Linked DNA regions of Homo sapiens. The protein of the gene in region 3 interacts with the protein of the main gene of each other region in a biochemical or structural test. Each region holds a gene or a part of one and is shown on either strand. Other genes may lie near its edges.

Evidence for each region.
Region 1: the proteins of UBE3B (region 3) and UBE2V2 form a complex in vitro, tested with the Homo sapiens proteins (one study listed by BioGRID).
Region 2: the proteins of UBE3B (region 3) and UBE2V1 form a complex in vitro, tested with the Homo sapiens proteins (one study listed by BioGRID).

What each region holds. Positions count from the first base shown.
Region 1 is NC_000008.11:48,039,408-48,046,514, reverse strand, and holds part of UBE2V2 (ubiquitin-conjugating enzyme E2 variant 2), read right to left. Parts: intron 3,483-7,107; coding exon 3,334-3,482; intron 1-3,333. UniProt on the Homo sapiens protein: Has no ubiquitin ligase activity on its own. The UBE2V2/UBE2N heterodimer catalyzes the synthesis of non-canonical poly-ubiquitin chains that are linked through 'Lys-63'. This type of poly-ubiquitination does not lead to protein degradation by the proteasome.
Region 2 is NC_000020.11:50,082,114-50,089,220, forward strand, and holds part of UBE2V1 (ubiquitin-conjugating enzyme E2 variant 1), read right to left. Parts: intron 2,142-7,107; coding exon 2,016-2,141; intron 802-2,015; coding exon 655-801; 3' UTR 1-654. Other genes in the region: PEDS1-UBE2V1 (TMEM189-UBE2V1 fusion protein), read right to left, coding at 655-801, 2,016-2,141. UniProt on the Homo sapiens protein: Has no ubiquitin ligase activity on its own. The UBE2V1-UBE2N heterodimer catalyzes the synthesis of non-canonical poly-ubiquitin chains that are linked through Lys-63.
Region 3 is NC_000012.12:109,472,910-109,480,648, reverse strand, and holds the start of UBE3B (ubiquitin-protein ligase E3B), read right to left. Parts: upstream 3,016-7,739; 5' UTR 2,540-3,015; intron 1-2,539. Other genes in the region: KCTD10 (BTB/POZ domain-containing adapter for CUL3-mediated RhoA degradation protein 3), read left to right, coding at 3,387-3,389. UniProt on the Homo sapiens protein: E3 ubiquitin-protein ligase which accepts ubiquitin from an E2 ubiquitin-conjugating enzyme in the form of a thioester and then directly transfers the ubiquitin to targeted substrates.

The DNA.
Region 1 (7,107 bases), on a different chromosome or scaffold from region 3:
TGCGAAGGCCGAGGTGGGCGGATCATCTGAGGTCGGGAGTCTGAGACCAGCCTGAGCAACATGGAGAAACCCTGTCCCCACTAAAAATACAAAATTAGGCCAGACGCGGTGGCTCACGCCTGTAATCCCAGCACTTTGGGAGGCCGAGGCGGGTGGATCACAAGGTCAGGAGATCGAGACCATCCCGGCTAACATGGTGAAACCCCATCTCTACTAAAAATACAAAAAATCAGCAGGGCGTGGTGACAGGCCCCTGTAGTCCCACTACTCGGGAGGCTAAGGCAGGAGAATGGTATGAACGCGGGAGGCAGAGCTTGCAGTGAGCCGAGATGGCGCCACTGCACTCCAGCCTGAGCGACTGAGCAAGACTCCGTCTCAAAAAAAAAAATAAAAATACAAAATTAGCTGGGAGTGGTGGCACATGCCTGTAATCCCAGCTACTAGGGAGGCTGAGGCAGGAAAACCGCTTGAACCTGGGAGGCGGAGGTTGCGGTGATCTGAGATTACACCATTGCACTTTAGCCTGGGCAACAAGAGCCAAACTCTGTCTCAAAAACAAACAAACAAAAAAGTCTTCCTCCTCTCCTGGCTAGATGTAGATACTCTACCCTGGGGACAAAATTGTTCTCAACATTGCACCTTCTAAGGAGAAAACAACTGTGGTAAGATACCAACTCCTGCCTGTTTTATGAAAAGGCAACTGAATATGCCTGCTGTGACCTGCCTTCAAGAGAACTGAGAAGGTGATGCAGAGAAGATCATCAGGTGGTGAGCAGAGGCCAGTTCCAGAAGAAGCCTGTGCCTTTGCAGGGCACACCCTCCTACCTCTGCCTGGCACTCAAAGGAAGTGAGGGGGTCTCTGATGAGGTTCAGGACATACTATCCCAAAATACGGCACCTTGGCACTTAAGAAAACAGCAGAAGCAAGGTTACTCTTACCTTACCTTCGCCCCCTTCTCCCCTGAAGCAGACCCTAAAATCTAGCTGACCTCCCCACGAAGTAGGTAGGTCATGAGAACCACTCCAAAGGGGTCTTGTCTTATGCCAAGAAAGGAATGAAATCCAAAGACACAGGAATAATGTGAACAAACAGGCCCTGGTAAGTTCCCCCAGTTTATTACCTAGTGTGTTACCATCAGATCCAATCACGCTGTTGCATCACTGTCCACTCTTCATCAAATTTAGCATAAAAATACACGGTTTCCCTGTTTCTTTGGGTCTTCCTTTCTGAATGTTCCCATGTCATGTAAAACTTAAATAAATTTGTATGCTTTTCTCTGCTTTTTATTATAAGTGCCTCAGCGTGAAGCTTGAGACAAGTGAGGAAAGGCTATTATGACCTTTTCTCTCCTGCAGCTCCAAAACCACCACCCACAGGGAATGGAGGACCACAGTAGCATTTTGTCTGTGTGCCCTGAGAGGGGAGAGAGTTGCAGAGAAGCAGCCTTCACCCCCATCCCAGTGGATAGAGTTTCCTGAGGTTCGGTGACACCAGGAATGGCAACTAGTTGGGGCATCCTGCAGGGGACCCCAACCGGGTGAAAGACCAAGCAGGAACCGGTCCACGACAGCTAGGAACTGTGCTGTGGGTCAGCCCACAAGACCACTGATGAACTCATCACAAGTTCCAAAACATTCTTAAAGTCTGCTGCAGGCAGTGGCTAGAGAAAAACGAAATCTAAATAATTTCAAATTTATATTCTACCAAGTTCTGACTGTTAAATCTTCAAATCAGTAAGTCAGAATGTTCATCAATTATAAGCGCTTTTTTTAAACCAAACAGACCACAGTAATGATGTTCACAGGCAGTGAAAATCAAGGCTTCCATTATATATACCAAGTCATATGGAACTCTATCCATCAACATATCAACATTATATTTCCTTCCTAAAATGTCTTCAGGAAAAAATAGAGCAAGGGAGTAAACAGGGAGCCTATCAGTGTAGGAGTGTGCATGAATTTTGCAAAGGAACACCAGAAAACAACATAAAACACACACTAATTCATTCTCTATAATTAATGTTGCTAATTACCTGATACATTTTTCTTTTGTAATAATCAGGAGGGGCTGGGTGCAGTGGCTCACACCTGTAATCCCAGCATTTTGGGAGGCCAAGGCAGGTGGATCACTTGAGGCCAGGAGTTCGAGACCAGCCTGGCCGACATGGTGAAACCCCATCTCTACAAAAACTACAAATATTAGCCAGCAGTGGTGGTGCACACCACCTCAGGAGGCTGAGGTGGAAGGATCGCTTGAGCCCAGGAGGCTGAGATTGCAGTATGCTGAGATCACACCACTGCACTCCAGCCTGGGTGGCTGAACAAGATGTTGTCTCAATAATCATCATCATCATCATCATCATCATCATCAGGAGGAACTCTAAACTCTACCCAAGAGCAAAACAGTTAAAATGCTCTCATCATAAGGTAGCAACCAGTATACAAAACCAAAGACTTAAAAAACCCTTCAAATGTGTGCTCTTTCCAACAAGCCAAAAACATTAGAGAGACAAATTTCAAAGATTCACTGCAGGGAGTGCAGTGGATGGGACCATTAAGTAAGGAATGCAATGTAAAAAAAAAAAAAAATCCCAAGCTAGAAAAAAAGACTAAAAGACTTTGAGTAAAAATAAAACTTCATAAACCCAAGAAAGACAAAGTACAATGGGCCAGTTGCCAACCATACTAGAAAAAAATGTAAGAATCATAGACTTTTTATAGATGAAGAAGCTGAGACCTACAGCATTTCTATGGCATGTGAAGTGTCAGAGGGCAAATAGCAACATGCACTCAATGCAAACCAATTTAGAAACCCTCAGGTTCACACAAGAGGTAACATGTTACGTCAAAATGACTGCTCTCCCCACATACCCCCTCCATTTCCTCACCTTTTCTCCTCTCTATCTGGAATGTTCTCCATCCCCATCACCACCTTCTGAAATCCTACCAGTCAGTCCTTTAGGGATCATTCCAAAGGCAACTTCCTCCACTGTTCAGCCTTCCTCAATTATTCCAGCTAGAAGAAACATATTCTAAAGTCCCGTAGTGAACTTGCTCTGTCATATTTAGAATCTGTCATTTGTACTGATTTTTTCTCCCTTACTAAACTGCAAAACTTTGATGGCAATGACCATATCAACCTTCCTCCCCCCAATCCTCTACGTAATCGAGCATTATATCCTGCACGTGGGAAGCATCAATAAATGTAAACAAAATAAAAAGGAACTATTTTAGAAGTTATCATAATTGCTTATTTTAATATCAATAGTATAAAATTAAATGCTAACTTTAACAATAAGTATTAATAGAAAAAATATAATTTATAACACTGACCCTTGGTGGCCCAATAATCATGCCTGTCCACCTTGTAAGTGTCATATCTTCATCATCTTCAAGGCCCCAGCTAACTGTACCGTCGCCTACTCCTTTTTGTCCTTCTTCAAGTTCTTCCAACAAGCGAAAATTACGAGGAACTTTAACTCCTATACAAAAGAACGTCAGTGTAAATGTAAAAAGCTCATAATTATAAGAGCTACACGTATTTAAATTCAGCTTTTTCCAAATTAACCTTTATAAATTATTTCCCAAAAAGACCAAATCCCCTTTAAAAAGCATTCTGCTCCAGAAAATGCTGAATCTAATAACCCCTCAAAATGAAAACACTAAAGAAAGCACTGTACCAAACATTAACAGCAGTATACAACGTGTATATAAATTCCTCATCAATTTTATACTGATGTAAGTCAATCAACCATAAGGAAATCGTTTTCCCTATTTGATGTTTCTGTTACAGCCAAGGACTCTGCACCAATCAAACAGGCATGCCCAGAAAGTTCATAGAAGCCAAAGTTCATTAATATATACTCTCTAATGATTTTCAAAGAGTAGAATTATGTTCCATCTTAGAAAGTGCACCAGAAGGTACTGTCTTTTAGAATCCTGAAGCAGTCCCACCCAACCTGTCTCAAAAAAAAAAAAAAAAGAATGAGGAGTGAACCTTCATGTGAGGGGCATGTGAAAACAGAATCTGTCAGAGAGTAAACAGACCATGGACTTCTAAAGCAAATTCACACATCAAAGTTCAAATAATGGTGCAAAACCACCTCCTGTGAACAACTGACTTGGCTTTCAGTATGTCTCTTTAAAGAAAACATTATCATTTTATATGAGTTTCTTAAATGCTATTGGTAATATGGAGTTTAATTTTATGCACCTTAGATAATACATTTTTTAATGTGTTTGTGAGATTTTCATGGATGGTTTTTCAAAATTCCTAATTTTAGTTAGTAAGGATTTGACTTTGGGAAGACAGAAAACCTTTCAAGTAAAATGAATAGGCTTATATACATAAAGAAACTTCTTAATGAATTTAAAAGTGATCCTGTGAAAAACATAATTCCAGTGACATGGATGCCTAAATTTAAAAGAGTGGATACGGCTGGGCCTGTAATCCCAGCACTTTGGGAGGCCGAGGCAGGCAGATCACCTGAGATTGGGAGTTCGTGACCAGCCTGACCAACATGGAGGAACCCCATCTCTATTAGAAATACGAAATTAGCCGGGCATGGTGGCACATGCCTGGAATCCCAGCTACTCGGGAGGCTGAGGCAGGAGAATCGCTTGAACCCGGGAGGTGGAGGTTGCGGTGAGCCAAGATCACACCATTGCACACCAGCCTGGGCAACAAGAGAGAAATTCCATTTAAAAAAAAAAAAAAGAAGAGTGTTTACACAAGTAAAGTGTGTCTGCTTTTTAAGAGTTTATTCAGTTTAGGAAGGGGAGTCAAAATTTGTACTTGATTTCAATTTATTGTTATCTGAAATTGAAAGTATTCCTACCTTTTTTTGCTTTCGTGTATATGCAAAGGTAAATATTTATTAATCAAACCTTATAAATTTGAGGTGATTTTAGCCTGATTTCTCAGAACTTTTAATTTGTCTGTGTAGAAATGGGTTTACTAAATATTTTTAGACAATTTCTTAAGTATCTACTTTTATTTGCATACAGTAAGTTAGGAAAGACATTTAATGTTCCTCATACACCTGCTGTGTTATTTTGTGTGTGTGAGACAGAGTCTCGCTCTGTAGCCGAGCCAACCTCCACCTCCCAGGTTCAAGCTATTCTCCTGCCTCAGCCTCTCAAATAGCTGGGATTACAGGCGTGCAACACCATGCCCGGCTAATTTTTGTATTTTTAGTAAAGATGGAGTTTCACCGTGTTGGCCAGACTGGTCTGGAACATTTAATGTTCCAGAGGCGGAGGCTGCAGTGAGCCGAGATCGCACCACTGCACTCCAGCCTAGACGACAGAGCGAGACTCTGTCTTAAAAAAAAAAAAAAAACAACAAAAAAGGCCGGGCACAGTGGCTCACGCCTGTAATCCCAGCACTTTGGGAGGCCGAGGTGGGCAGATCACGAGGTCAGGAGATCGAGACCATCCTGGCTAACACGGTGAAACCCTGTCTCTAGTAAAAATACAAAAAATTAGCCAGGCGTGGTGGCGGGCGCCTGTAGTCCCAGCTACTCGGGAGGCTGAGGCAGGAGAATGGTGTGAACCCAGGAGGCAGAGCTTGCAGTGAGCCGAGATCGCACCACTGCACTCCAGCCTGGGTGACAGAGTGAGACTCTGTCTCACACACACACACACACAAAAAAAAAAAAAAAAAAAAAACCCAGCCTGGCCAACATGATGAAACCCCATCTCTACTAAAAATACAAAAATAAGCCAGGCATGCTGGTGCACACCTGTAATCCCAACCAGCTACTTGGAAGGCTGCTGCAGAATCGCTTGAACCCAGGAGGTGGAGGCTGAAGTGAGCCGAGATCAAGCCCCTGCCCGGGAGACAGAGCGAGACTGTCTCAAAAACAAAAACAAAACAAAAAAAGAAAAAACAGAGGGGACACTTTCCTAGATTTTAAGACTTCCTCATCAGCTAAAGAAATCATTAAGAAAATATGGAATCAGTACAGAAATGGACAGACTAATGAAAAAGAAAAGCCCCAAAGCAGACATATCATATATGAAAATGTGCTTCTTAGTAGAGGCAACACTAAAAGTCAGTAAAGAGAATAGAGGCATGACAACCAAATGCAATCTTGGTATCAGGAAAAATATTATTATCATTATTTTGCTTTAAAGAACAGTAGTGGTGAAATCTGAATAGGGCTGGTAGATAATAGTCCTCTATCAACATTAATTTCCTGATTTTGATAATTCTATTGTAAGAAAATGTCCTAGTTGAAGAATGTAGGGGTGAAGAGACAGTATCTGTTAACTTACCCTTGAATGGTTCCCCCAAAAAACAAAATCGAATGTGAAGGGAGGGGGGAAGAGAGAGTACACACAAGAGCAAGCAAAAATGTTAAACATCAACATTTGATGGATCTGCATGAAGGTATATGGGAATCCTTCGTACTACTTATGTTAACTTTTCTGCAAATCTGAAGTTATTTCAAAAGAAAAAAAAAAAAAAAAGTAGAAAAGGCTGGGCATGGTGGCGGCTCACACTTGTAAACCCAGCATTTTGGGAGGCAAAGGTAGGCCAATCAACTGAGCCCAGGAGTTGGAAACCAGCCTGGGCAACATGGCAAGACCCCATCTCTACAAAAAATACAAAAATTAGCCAGGTGTGGTAGCTGGCACATGCCTGTGGTCCCAGCTATTCAGAAGGTGGGGATCACCTGAGCCCAGGGAGGTCAAGACTGCAGTGATCTGTGATCACACCACTGCACTCCAGCCTGGGCCACAGAGTGAAACCCTGTCTCAAAAGAGAAGGAAAAAAAAAGTAGGAAAAGTTAATGGTGTTGGAACACTTTACCAATATGAAAAAATAAAATTAGAACCCAATCTGATCTCATAGTATACATAAAAATCAATTATAGGCAGATTAAATGAAAAGATAAGCCACAGACTGAAAAAGGATGTGAATAACATATAGAAGACAAGAACGTTATTCAAAATACAGAAATAATTCCTCCTAGAAATCAACAAGGAAAAGAAAACCCTAGAGAACAATGAGAACATATTAGGAATAAGGTTTACAGAAAACAGTAATGACCAACAAACATAAAAATATGTTCAACCTCATCAGTAATCAGGGAATCATAA
Region 2 (7,107 bases), on a different chromosome or scaffold from region 3:
CTGAATTCCTCACCGAAGGCCAATCTCAGAGGGGAGTGGAGGGGTTACAATCTATGCTTCGGCCAAGGGCGGGAGTGGAGGAGCGTGGGGACAGGATGATGGTTTGGAAGGGGCATCACTTAAGACTTAAAGAAACCAGGGGTGCAGGCGAAACACCCCACACACCTAGCAGTAGTCCCACAGGCTGCGACCTGAAACCTTCACATCTACTCTAACAAGCCCCCCAGGCTAGAGGGCTGTTGTTGCAGGGAGGGTGGGAGGCGGGAGGGTAAGGGGAGAAGGCAGAGACCCCAGGCCGTGTAATCAGCAGCAAGGTGATTGTGTGATGTGTCTTTTCACAGTTGAGTTAGATGTGCCCCACCAGTTATGATGGGAATCAATTTAAATAGACTTTCTTGATCCCAGAAGTTCAACTACGTGGACAGTGGTTACACTTGACAGGATGATTTGTTATAGCACAACTTATATATTTCAAATGGACAAAAAATTAGTATCATTTACAGTATCTTAAGATAAATTTCCTTTGAATGGGAGCTTCCTTTCCGGTACTTTGAGGTCTACAAGACGTATCTAGAAAATTTACTACTGTGGAAAATGAAGACTGATTAAATCGAATTGGGGGGAAGGGGAAGGGCCTGTGGTTTTTCTTTTTGATTAATTGCTGTAACACTGTCCTTCGGGCGGCTGAGGGAGTTTCATATTTTCTTTAGACATCATTAGGCGCCGAAGCTCTTGCAGGACAACTTTGATGCTATATGAATTCTGCCATTTTGCTAGCACTGATATGGCTCTTGGGTCCACCTACAACAAGGCAAACAAAAGCAAATTACTCTCAGACTCTCAAACAAAATAGCTATATGCCGGGGTTAAGCTAAGGTGCAAACTGGAGTAAGATGTACTTTTTAAGCTGAACCTGCTGCTAATCCTAATACCTTACATGCGGAATACCTACCTGCTAGAGTCCCTCCCTCCAGTCAGCCTGCCTTTCCCTTTTGTGCCCTGAACCATTACTATCTGGGATAAGGAAACGGTGGTACTGACACTTGGGTGAGACTCAACCCAGCCCTACTTGGCTCTTCAATAATGGCCGCTGCTGGGCTGGCGGCTGCCGGGCTCAGGACCTGTCCTCTTCACTGCGCCCAGGTCAGGGGGACAGATGTGCATGCAGGGCAGTACGGACAGCCAAGGCAAAGGGTGGCCAGGACACCTGCTCCAGTGACAAGGGCCTGCCACAGAGCCAGCACCTCTCAGGTTAAGGCAGCATTTCCCAAAATAAATTCCCCAAAGCACAGGTTGAGCTCTGGGCTCAGGACTTTAGGTGGAACTCAGATTCAGGATTAAACACTAAACACACTGTAACAAAGCTCATCTCTTTTCAATTTTCCAGTCTTCTGAGTATCTCAAAGACGAAGGCTTGGCGTGACGTTAACATGTGTAGCATCCCTTCAACACTTGCTGATCTCCTCTTTGAACAGGAGAGCAGGCCTCAAAGGCTCAAAGCTTTTGGCAAATGACACATGGAGTCAAGATTTATTAACATTGCTCTGTTTTTGTAATATTTACTGTTGCCATTATTGCCCAGTTATGACAACTGAGACAGGTTTTTCATTTATGGTAGTAAAAATAAAAAAGCAAGGCCATTAAAGGAAAAAAATATTACATGCCAGTGGTTCACAAATAAGGCCCAGGGGGGTAAAGGTGTAGCCCTGGGAAAGATCTTCCACGTCTGTGCCTCAGTTTCCTCATCTCTACCTCACTGGGGTGGCATGAGGAAAGAGCTCATATTTCAAAGCGACCAGCACAGAACTAGCCCAGGGTAAGTGCTATATGAGTGATCGCCAGATATAATTGGGAAACAGGCCCCATCCCAAATCTGTGCTCCTATGCACAGTGATACAGTTTATCAACAAATAACCAAAGAACCTAGGAATTGGGCCCAGTCTAAAAGCTCCTGATGTTAAGTACAAAGCAACTGTCAACTCCAAGGAACAAGTGGGACAGAGAAAACAACTTACCACTCCATTAGAACTATTTACTCCATTCATATTAATTTTTGTTACAAATCTTACAAAGGGGGGTGCTTCTGGGTATTTAGGTCCACATTCTATTTTAAGGCTGTATATTCGGTTTTCATAAATTGTCTGGAAAAAAAGAGTACGGAGATGTCACGCAATTACAAACAAAGCATTCAAAAAGGTAGAGCTTGTGAAACCCCATTTATCCCTGACTGTAGAACTGGTACATCTGCTTCCAGCATGGAGTCTACTTGTTCTGTGGTAGGTCAGCAGTTCTATACTAGTTCCTACACTAGTTTATATGACTTCCGGGCCTTGGGGGAATACAAAGAAGATGGAGCATTTAAGCTAGTACCAGTGAAGTTTTTAGTATTAAGTCTAATCAGAGGGACCTGTTTTTATGTTAATTTCTCTACTTTGCAGTCCTTCTCTGGGGAATGGTAAGAGGCATTCTCTATTCTAGGAAGCCGAGTTAAATGTCCACTCACCAGGATCATCAGCCAATCAGTTAAATAACACTATGTGGTATTAAAGCACAGAACAGGTCACTGCTTTAGAGAACCTCAAAATTAAGACAAGACGAGGGAGGGGTGCAGACTCAGAGCTGCTTCCCCCTTCTCCATCACTCCGGGGTTAGGCACTGGGTAAGGGATTTCAACTGGGGTGTTCCATCCCTCCCTGCAGTCTTTTTTTTTTTTTTTGGTAGTCTGACCTGAGAGATTACTGGCATTCAATGGGTGAGGCAGCACAGGGAAAAGCAGTCTTTTTTTTTTTTTTTTTTTTTTGAGACAGAGTTTTGCTCTTGTTGCCCAGGCTGGAGTGCAATGGTGCGATCTCGGCTCACCGCAACCTCCGCCTCCCGGGTTCAAGTGACTCTCCTGTCTCCTGAGTAGCTGGGATTACAGGCATGTGCCACCATGGCCGGGTAATTTTGTATTTTTAGTAGAGACAGGGTTTCTCCATGTTGGTCAGGCTGGTCTCGAACTCCTGACCTCAGCTGATCTGCCCTCTTCGGCCTCCCAAAGTGCTGGGATTACAGGCATGAGCCACCGTACCCAGCCAAAAACCGTCCTTCTTTAAAAGGCTAACTGTGCCTTTGTTGAGAAACACTGAAAAGTCCAACCCCCTATGCCAATAACCTCTTCACTGTACCATCTACCCCATAAGCAGGGAGATGCGCTCTGTTGCCCGGCTGTTCCTTCTGCTTGGAGCGTCCTGCCCCCACCTGAAATGCCTTGCAACCCTGAAGACCCAGCTCAAACACTACCTAGTCCCTAGCTTTCTATCCCATATGAAGTCACACTGCTATCACATGTGTCTGAAGACCACACTGAAGGGTGATGTCTCCCAGTAAAGAGTAACCCCCTCAAAGGCAGGGGCTCCCCTCTCTGTGGGTTCCCCTGTCAGGCATCAGTGCCTTCTCCGGCATCAGTACCCTCTCCGGCATCCGTGCCCTCTCCTCAGGAAAGGAGTCTTGTACTGCATAATTGCTCCCGTGTAAACAGCGGCATCTAGTGGTCTTTGGGGAGAATAAATCAGAGGATGTGATTTAAACCCTTGATTCAGAAGGCATTCATAATATACCCATGGAAACTTTTCTTGTCCACAGGGATCCCAAACTACAACCAAACCAAAACTGTGAATTTCTACCTACCCTCAACCTGCCCTCTTCCTCCTCAGTGAATGACATCAGCATCTACCCAGTTAGCTAAAGCAAAAACTAGCAGGCAACCCAATTCCCCTCTCCCTTACCCTCTACCTGCCAGTGGTCAGAAGGTCCCACTGTTCTACCTCTGAAAGAGACCCCACTGTTCTACCTCTGAAAGAGACCCCATATCCATCCACTTTCCTCCACCACCGTCACCTCTTCTGAACTCCCCCAAGTCTCTTTCTCTCTTGCTCCCGGCACAGCAGCCAGACCAACGTCTTAAAAACAGGAAGCTGTCTCTGCTGGCTTAACCCTCTGATGGCTCCTAGTGACCTGAAGAGGAAGCCAAAGTTCCCAGACTGACCCGGGCAGCCCTAACTGCCTCTTCTTTTACTCTTCTCCCTCCCCTGCCCACCATTCCTCTTCAACCTTGCCAAGTTCTCTCCACCTTGGGGCTCTCACCCCAGCTGCTTCCCCTTGGAAGTGTTCCCGATCCCCTCAGCCCCTCCCAACTGAGGCTCAGTTATGCATCAGACACCCTCACTAAACACAGAAAAAGGAGGGTGGGGGCCTTGACAGGGGCCCTCAACTGAATTGGTACTCAAATGTTTGTTGAATGTTTCTCTTCACACTTTTATATTATAAAATAAACACCTCATTGCAATTAAGGTGTTTCCTCAAAGAAAAAAAAAACCCAGTAAACAGAACAAGTAGGAAGCAAACAAAGGCATGACTCACATACAGATTTATGGAGAATATAACAGATCCATCCTCAGAACCTATCATAGTCTCCATCAACAACTATATACTCAGTGTTGACTGAATAGATCCTGAATGGAGCAAAAATCATGCTCCCTGGTTTTGTCACACAATTCAAGAATGAAATTCCTTACATTTTAAGGAATCAAATTTCTCACCACTGATATTCATCTGGTAATTTCACTGGAAGACAGTAAAAAAAAAAGCCTCAAGTCATCACAGACACACACCTGAAGGGTCATTTAAAAGCCCCAACCTAAGGCCGGGTGAGCTGGCTCACGCCTGTAATCCCAGCACTTCGGGAAGCCGAGACAGGCGGATCACAAGGTCAGTAGATCGAGACCATCCTGGCTAACACGGTGAAACCCTGTCTCTACTAAAAATACAAAACATTAGCCGGGTGTGGTTGTGGGCGCCTATAGTCCCAGCTACTTGTGAGGCTGAGGCAGGAGAATGGCACGAACCCGGGAGGTGGAGCTTGCAGTGAGCCGAGATTGCGCCACTGCACTCCAGCCTGGGCGACAGTGCGAGACTCCATCTCAAAAACAAAAAACAAAAAACAAAAAACCCCAAGCTAAGGCTGGGTGCGGTGGATGACGCCTGTAATCTCGGCATCTGGGGGGGCCGAGGTGGGTGGATAACCTGAGGTCAGGAGTTCGAGACCCATCTGGCCAACATGATGAAACCCTGTCTCTACTAAAAATACAAAAATTAGCCAGGCATATTGGCAGGTGCCTGTAGTCCCAGCTAACCGGGGGGCTGAGACAGGTGAACTGCTTAAACCTGGGAGGTGGAAGTTGCAGTGAGCCGAGACTGCACCACTCCACTCCAGCCTGGGTGACATTGCGACACTTTGTCAAAAAAAAAAAAAAAAAGCCCCAAGCTAGACTTTAATAGAAACCAGGGTTACAGGGTTTCTGGTTTTTTTATTTTGTTCATGAGTGCTCCAGGGACCTGCTAAAAAGGTTTCAGCAAAGGAAATGTGCCTGAAGGAGAATTGCTGGAACATTCTGCGTCTGTGAGAAATACTGCTCTTAAGATTCATTATTTGATCATGAAACAAACACTTTCCACTTTGTTGATATGGCTCATGCTTTGTGGAGCCGTTTGGCAGTGCTCATCAACATGTGAAATGGGCATGCTCAGACCAGCAGGCCCCTTCCTAGCAATTTCCTTCAGAGAGACGCAAACTTGTGCACAAAATGTGAAGCACTGTCTGCAATAGCAAAAATAACTACAATCTACATGTCTCCTTGCAAGGGACTATATGAACATGGCATATTCATATAACCCGGAGACTTCGTAGCCTTCTCAAAGGCCGAGGGACACTCCTTGGGCACACACACACATACGAAAGACTGGCAAAACATGGCACCAGGTATAGACGATACATTGTAGGATATGTATAGCCTATAAAAGCAGACATACACTTTCTTCCAATTCTGGATATATTTGTGTGCACACAGGCTACTTTGTCCATTAGGCACTACAGGCCCAGAGCCTGGAGATTATAAATTTTTCCTGGGCCAAATGCATACATATGAGATAACCCCAGTCTAATCATTAAAAAAAAAAAAAAAAAAAGACAAATTCCAATAGAGAGACAGTCTACAAAATACCTGACCAGTACTCCTCAAAACAGCCAAGGGCATCAAAAACAAGAAAAACCTGAGAAATGTCATTGCCACGAGGAGCCAGAGATATGATGACTAAGTGTAATGTGGTATCTTGGATGGGATTCTGGAACAAAAAACAGATATAAGTAAAAACTAAGAACACCTGAATAAAGTATGGACTTTAGCTAATAATAATGTATCAACGTTGGTTTATTGGTTGTGACAAATGTACCATAATAACATAAGATGCTAGCAACAGGGAAAAGGTAGCACAGGAAGTACTACCTTTGCAACTTTTCTATAAGCCTGTAAGTATTAGAAAATAAAATTTGTTTTAAAAATGTATGAGCTAGGCTAGGCACGGTGGCCCACGCCTGTAATCTCAGCACTTTGGGAGGCCAAGACAGGAGGACTGCGTGAGCCCAGGAGTTCAAGACCAGCCTGGGCAACAAAGTGAGACCCTGTCTCTACAAAAAGTAAAAAAAAATTAGCCAGGTGTGGTGGTGCGCCTGTGGTCTTGGCTACTTCGGAGGCTGAGGCAGGAGGATTACTTGATCCCAGGAGGTCAAGGCTACAGTGAGCTGTGATTGTGTCACTGAACTTCAGCCTGGGTGACAGAATGAGACCCTATCTCAAAAAAAAAAAAAAAAGTATGAGATATGAGAAAAGGAAAAAGGTATTAATTACAAAAATATGCAAGGAAAATTACAAAATCTAAACATACAAAAAGGAAACATTAGGTCAACCAGTCACCTGCTATTCAGTTCCAATCTTACATAGTTATATACAAATTACGTTTAATGTACAATGTGGGTACATGCTATGTTAGAATGCAGATCACAGTAACTGTTGGGGAGAAGAGTGGGGATATGGCAGTTAGGGATAAATCAGGAAAAAAGACTCCACACTAGGTTTTATAACAGAATTTAATATAAGACATTGCTTAAACAGGCGTCAGTGGACTGAAAATGTTCAAAGGGAATCTAAGCTAACACAGATGTAATAACGAAATGAAGCAGGATGGAAACTCTTAAGGGAGGGGGGGATAAGCTGGAGTTTACCAGGGTTG
Region 3 (7,739 bases):
GGCAGGGTCTCGCTCTGTCATCCAAGCTGGAGTGCAGTGGTGCAATCATGGTTCATTGCAGCTTCTACCTCCCAGGCTCAAGCGATTCTCCCACCTCAGCTTCTCAAGTAGCTGGGACCACAGGTACATACCACCACATCTGGCTAGTTTTTAAATTTTTTGTAGAGGTGGGGTCTCGCTATATTGCCCAGGTTGGTGGTCTCAAACTCCTGGGCTCAAGAGATCCTCCTGCCTTGGCCTCCCAAAATGTTAGGATTACAGGTATGAGCCACCACACTGGGCCCTGAGTCTTTCCATCTTCATCTATTAATTGGCTTAGAGGTTGATAATGAGGACTAAATGTGATGATGCTTATCAGGTACCTATGGAGGTACTTGAGTGCACATTGTAGAGTGTATAGTCAGGAAGTCTAACTGGTGTATTATTTTTATAGACACAAGGATTAAAAAAAAAAAAAAACTCTTCAGCAGAGGCTCCCACCTGGACAGTTACTAAGGTTCTCTGGGTAGGAAATAATGCTGGCAGTCTGACATTTCTCACCCATTAACTTTTTTCCTATCTTAAATGCACTAAGATTCACCAGTCCTGTCCCTTGGGCTATGAACTCCTGGCCCTGTTGTTTAGAGTGAGTAACAGATTCAAGCTCCTCAGGACTGCAAAAGAGCAGGGCCCAAGCCACAAGCACAATGATATGCTCCCTCCATGACATGCAGACAGTGCCTCAATGGCAGAGGGTCCATGGAATTAGAAGGGGAAGAGGGAGCCTCTTCCCAAAAGAAAAACAAAGTTGCATGCAAACTGTACCTAAGCACTGTAAGACGATCTTAAAACTTTCACTTCTCCCAGGGGCCCTCCCAGAATAAGAAATTACTCTTATCCCCTTCCTTGAGATTATTATCCCTTCAGCAATGTTATTGGTTGATTTCTGTTCATATCATATAATAGCCTACACTTTACAGTTTTTCTCATCCTTTCCTATATACCTTCTCCACCTGCACAGTGTATACTATAGTTCGTCAATTAATAAAACACACAATCAAGTGTTTATTAAGTACTTATTTTGCTAAATGCCATGGAGAACCAAAGAAAAGGCTGTGCGCAGCAGAAAAAGTCTTGCATCAGAGAAAGCGGGCCTTGGTTCTTTTTAGTACTCCTTCTATCCGACATTTGGCCAAGTTACTTATCCTCTCTAGGCCTCAGTTTCCTTATGTGTAAATCGAGGGTAATAATAGTGTCTATGTCCTAGGGTTGCTGAAAGGATTAAATGCAACATTTATCCTTCTTGTACCTCAATTTAGTCATCACAACATTGTGATTAGGATTAAATGGGAAAATATTAATATAGGATATCTAAAAGCATGTAGCATGTAAGTGAGCTTTATTGTATTGTCCTTAAGAAGCTTGCAATCTAGTTAGGGAAACAAGAATCATATAGGTAGAAAGATTAGAAAATAAGAGGTTGGTGATAACCAAGATCATTTAAAAAAGTAAATGAGTGCCCATTATGTGTCAAGTCCTTTATAAGTGATCTCATCTAATAAGGAGAGGAGTCCTATGAGAAGATCATTCATGATCTCATCTACTCCAGTCTAGACCATTAGTATGTGGCAGAGTCAAGGCTGTAATAACTAAGAGGCAGGATTCAGACTCTTGTCTTACCTCTATATTTCCAAAGCTGAAGCATCATAAATACCAACTGCTGACTAAGCCAAGAGGATTGTCCCTGTGCAGTAGGAAAAGCTGGGCCACCAGGTTTAATGACCACCACCACTTGTTCTGGGCAGACGGTGTATCAGACACTGCACAGATTATTTAACCAACTTGTCTTTTCAACAGCTCTATCAGTTCTCGATAATCTTTGTTTTTTTGAGACGGAGTCTCACTTTGTTGCCCAGGCTGGAGTGCAGCGGCGCGAACTCTGCTCACTGCAACCTCCGCCTCCCAGGTTCAAGTGATTCTCCTGCTTCAGCCTCCCAAGTCGCTGGGATTAAAGGCGCCCGCCACCACGCCCGGCTAATTTTTGTATTTTTAGTAGAGATGCGGTTTCACCATGTTGGCCACGCTGGTCTTGAACTTCTGACCTCAGGTGATCCGCCCGCCTCGGCCTCCCAAAGTGCTAGGATTACAGGCGTGAGCCACCGTGGCCAGCCTCAATAATCTAATTTTTATTTAAAGAATAGGAAACACGACTTAAAGAGACTATTCATATTAACAGCTACTATTTATTGAAAGCTACAGCCTATCTAAGGTGGATGCTTTTGAATCTGAATCCATGTATATCCAAAACAGTTATTTATCACTAAGTAAAACAAACAAGATCCAGGGCTCCCCCGTTCACAGAATGGCCAAGCAAAGAGAAGTTGAGAGTGCAAGATTGCCTGTGGGGGCTAAGCTGGAGTTAAATTACGATCAAGTTTTTCTTTATTCAGAACTAGGTGTCAGGCACGGTACTAAAACGTATTCACACCCTCTGTGAAACCTGCTAATTACTCCATTTACACAGAAGGAAACTGAGGCTCAGAGAGGTGAGGGAACTCACCCAAGGTCACACAGCGAGCGAACAGTATTCGAACTCCAGTTTAGGTGAGTCCTGGGGCCCAGAGTCTTTCCTCGGCATCAACAACCACAGGAACAAATCACCCAGCATTAGTCCGTTTATAAAGGCCTACCGTCCCCAAAGTGAAAAGAGGTGGAAAGGGCCGCGGAAAGAGCCCCTGGAGCACACACGCCAGATCCCAGCACTTGTTCCTCCGACCTGGCCAGGCAGGGACTGTGCCCTAGAGCCAACTCCCTCAAAGTCCCCAGCCCCACCACTCGGAGGACTGACGACCCAGTTCTCCCGCAGGCCGGACCGCAGGCCCTACCGGCCTACCCGCAGGCCGACCTTTATTCGCCGGAGGTCCCCGCACTTGGGGTCGGGGCCGCAGCTGCCACTGTCTCAGCCCAAAACACCCGAGTTCTGCCAGACCCGGGGCAGCAGCCGACGCACTACCGCCATCTTGCCCCGCGGTGTTCGCTTTCAGAACCCCGCCAGGAAGCAAGCATCCAGTTCCGGAAAATGACAGTTCCGCAGAGCTTCTTCGCCCGGGAAGGAAAACTTCCCCACACCTTGCCTCCCCTCTGGCAGCTGAAATAGCGGAGGTGGGATAAATGCCCTCCCCAGCCGAGAAAAGCTGGAACCCACTCCGGCCGGGGAGGCTGGAAAGAAAACTGGCCCCTAGGCGCACAACGGACGGCTTAAGACGTTGCCCTCTGCGGGGCGGAAGTGGGGTGCGGACAGCGGAAGTTATCGCTCCGGCCCCGCCTCCGCCCCCGGCTGGCGTGAGCTGGGTGTTTCCTGCCTCTCTCAGTCCGGGTTTGGAGACTCCTGCGTCCTCCGACTTTTCATGGTAGGGAGGGCGGTGCCCATGGACTAGGGGTTGAGGGCGGCCGAGGGAGCTGGGCAGCAGCAGAGTATAAGAAGGGACCGAGAGGAGGGGGTGTGATGAGGGGCAGTCACGATAGTGGAGAGGCATTTGGGGGATTGGTTAGGGGAAAGGCCCGGGGTGGGGGAAGGGCTTTGGGTGGAGAATTAGGGGCGGGGGTGGTGGTAGGGAGGCTCCCTGGCGGTTAGGAATCCGGGAAGCACATTTGGGCTTGCGGAGTAGATACGTGTGTGCGTGAGGAAGGGGTGTCTCCAAGTGAGTCCTGAGTGCTGGTTGGAGATGGGAGTTGGTGATTGCGAGGAGAACAAAGAGATATCAATTGAAAACGGACATTTGGGGGTGGAAAATGAGGATTTGGAGGATTATGAAGGAGAATGAATGGGCAGGTTATGAGAAGGTGAGGTAGGATTCCTTGGGGCGGAGCGTTTGGCGTTTTGGAGGTTGTGGCTGGAGTCGCTGAGTTTCCAGGAAGTGGGGAAGGGGCTCCCAGGTGCGTCTGAACACACGGCCCAGTGAGGGAAAGAAATCGAGAGAGCCCAGCAGGCTGATGTGCGTTCAGTGCTTGGAATCCTGGGGAGAGATGCCAGGGGCCTGAGGTTAGGATACCTGCGCCACGGAGTTCAGTGCCTCAGCTGGCGCCTGGGTACCTATCTGTAACTTCCATTGAGGCCAGAGGTGACCACGCCTAAGGAGCGGAGGATGTTTCAAGATCTGTCTCTCAGCTGTGGGGTTTGTCTGCTTGGGATCCTCAAGGGTCTGTTCCCTGAGTAGCTCATTGTCCCTGGGTAGAGATGACCAAAGATTGGCCCAGATCTTCTTTCTACTTGCTTGCTTGTTTGTCACGTCCCTGGAAAGTGCAGTCTTAAGGGAAAATCAGTCCCAGTGACGCTGCTGAAGAAAAGTCAGTTATCCTGTAGCTGACGTTGACTAGTCCGCTCCATTTTGTGCAAAATAAGGACCAGCGGATGGGAAGAAGGCAGCATAAACCAGTGGTTCTCAAACTCTGGTCCCACCAGCAGCAACACCTGGTAACTTATTCAAAATGGCTGAAATTTCAAGCCCTGTCAGAGACTACTGAATCAGACATTCTTGGGGTGGAGCCCATCTATCGGTTTTAACAAGCCCTGCAAGGGATTAGACTAATGATTTCTTGATTTGGACTGTGTAATGAAAGGGGCAAAGGAGTTGGGAGTCAGAGGGCTCTTATAGGTGTGATTCCTAGTTTTCTCCCCAAAAAAGTGGGGTTGATGATAAACATCTTTCTCACTAGAACATTGAGAGAAATAGACCAAGAGTTTGTGTATTAAACACAGGGAGAGAATGTCATTTGATGGAAGTTGCAATTGGCGGTAGCTGTCTTATAAGCAAATTTTGGATGTAAAATGCTGCAATTATGTGACTTAGTTTAGTTGAAATGTAACAGCAGACTTTTCTGAGTTGTAGAAATGCCCTCAGTTTGGGAAGGTTTTATACAAGCCTCAATACAGTGTTTCTTAAACTTCTTTGCTGTAGGAATCCCCTGAGGTGATGCTTTGCCTCACATCCCTGGCAACTCTTAGATAAAGCTGGTTAAATACCTTAGCTAGGTGGCAGTAAGCCCTGGTCCCACATCCGAATCCCCCAAAGAGCTTTTTAAACACTAGTGACTGATCAGCCACCCCTCCGCATCTCTGAGATACTGATTAATTGATCTGGGGTGTAGCCCAGGCAAGCACAGGTGTGTGTGAGTTTGTTTTTGTTTTTTGGAGACAGGGTCTTGCTCTGTCGCCCAGGCTGGAGAGTGCACTGGTATTATCTTGGCTCACTAAAGCCTCACCTTCCCTGCCTCAAGCAGTCCTCCCACCGCAGTCTCCCGAGTAGCTGGGACTACAGGTGTGTGCCACCATGACCGGTTAATTTTTTTTTTTAATTTTTTTGTGGAGATTAGGTCTTATGTTGCTCAGGCTGGTCTCGAATTCCTGGGCTCAAGCAATCCTCCCGCCTCAGCCTCCCAAAGTGCTGGGATAATGGGTGTGAGCCACTGTGCCTGGCCTGGCATCATGTTTTTTAAGCACACGCAGGTGATTCTAGTAGCCAGGGTTGGGAACCACTGATCCCAATGTTTGAGACGCCCAAAGGAAACTACACAAAGGACTAGGTGCCAAATGCTTTAACATTCATTCTCTGAGGGTTTTGAAGATTATGGCTTTAACACTCCATTTTACAAGTTAGAAAACTGAGACTTGGGTTAAATTGCTTGAATTTCACGAAGGAAATGGTGGAACTGGATTGCAATCCAGGTTTGCCGAGACTATCCCGTTTTCCTTAACACACACACAGGCACACAAGACTTCTACAGAGAAGCATATAGAAAACGTGGGGTCAGGGATTTGGTGCGTTTTTTCCTACTGTACTTGCCTGAGCCTCCTTTTCAGTCGATGATTTTCCCCCTTCAGCTGATTTTTGTATTTTCATGCATGCATACAGTTGCTTCCTCCCTGTGGCTCTGAAGCTGTGAAGTGGGGGCTGGCTTTGGTTTATGGTGTTTTGGTTTGTTTTTAATGTGTCAGGTCAGGAATTCACTGGGCCAAGACCGTGGAGTTAATGGTAGCTTAAATAAGGGGTACAGTGCTTTTTAGAATAGTGGGCTCTAATCTTGGTGGGCTTTAAAATCTCCTGAGGGAGTTTTAAAAATTCTGTTGCCTAGTCCACATCCCGGACCAATTACATCAGAATTTTCATGGTAGGACCTAGGTGTCAGGAGTTTTGAGCTCCCAGCTGATTTCGATTGTCACCAACTGGAGAGCCACTGTTTAGAATCAGCAACATTATATTCAGGGGAGATGGAGAGAAGAGAGACTGACCATTTAACTGGAATAAACTTCTGATTGAATCAGATCCGTAGCCAGTATCTCAAGTATTCATTGCCTCTCTGTTTCATGTAACCAATTTTGCTGTCTCCTGCTTCACCTCCCCAGCTTCATTGGTAATGAAATCAAACCTTTGAAACAAGTCAAAAAGCAGGATCCTGGCCAGGCACGGTGGTTCATGCCTGTAATCTCAGCACTTTGGGAGGCCGAGGCAGATGGATCACTTGAGGTCGGGAGTTCGAGACCAGCCTGACCAATGTGGAGAAATCCCGTCTGTACTAAAAATACAAAATTAGCCAGTCGCGGTGGCTCACACCTGTAATCCGAGCACTTTGGGATGCCGAGGCAGAAGGATCACCTGAGGTCAGGAGTTTGAGACCAGCCTGACCAACATGGTGAAACCCCATCTCTACTAACAATATAAAATTAGCCAGGTGTGGTGGTGCATGCCTGTAATCCCAGCTACTCGGGAGGGTGAGGCAGGAGAATTGCTTGAACCTGGGAGGCAGACGTTGCGGTGAGCTGAGATCGTGCCGTTGTACTGTAGCCTGGGCAATAAGAGCAAAACTCAGTCTCAAAAAAAAAAAAAAAAGCAGGATTCCAGTAGCAACAGTGGGGAGAGTCCTCCCTAGAGAGGTTTGCTATGGTGGGGGTCTCTGGTCCACTGCCTCGTGTCCTAAGTTCACTGTAACTTGGGCTCAAGGACACGAATGCTGCCAAAACTTTTCCCCCAAGGGCCTTGCCTACTATTAGGTTGACTGACCTTTGGAGAGGGTGAGCTCTGAAAAGGTTTAGAGCTTTTGTTGCCTAATCTGTAGTCTCATTCTAGATCAGGATGGCTCCTGCCTTTATCTCTTAGTCATGCCGTCTGCCATTAGAGCTGGAAACAGTTTCCAAAGAGAAGATAGTTTGAGACTTCGGGAGCATTCTCAAATCATCATAATTTGAGTGTTTGGAGTGTTTACTCAGAGCTAGGGAGCCCTGTGAGGGAGGTGAGGCTTTTGGCCCTGGACACAGCTACTAAGTGGTAGGGCTGGGGCCTTATGCACAGGTCTAACTCCAAACCCTTAGCCACACTTTACCTCGCGACTATTTTCAGGGCTTTTTGTACTTTTTAAAGAAGGGAGGTGAGGCTGGCCTTTCTCAGCTTATGTATCATAGCTCTCAATCTACTAGGTGTGATGGTCTCTGGGCCAGCCACCACTTGCCCATGTCCTTCACTGGCCCCGTCACTGACTCAACTCCAGCTTGAGAGTGACTGACCCTGATGGGGCTGTGGCATCCAAATCCACAAAATGGAAATAACTATAGCTGTCTTCCAGCATTGTTTGAATTTGTAAAAGGCATGTGGTAGAAATGCAGTGGTCAAGGGACACCGAGGGGCTTTCTGGAGGCATGGAAATGTTCCAAGACAGCTTGATTGGAGTGGGGGCTACACAGGTGCAAGTATTGACCAAAACACATC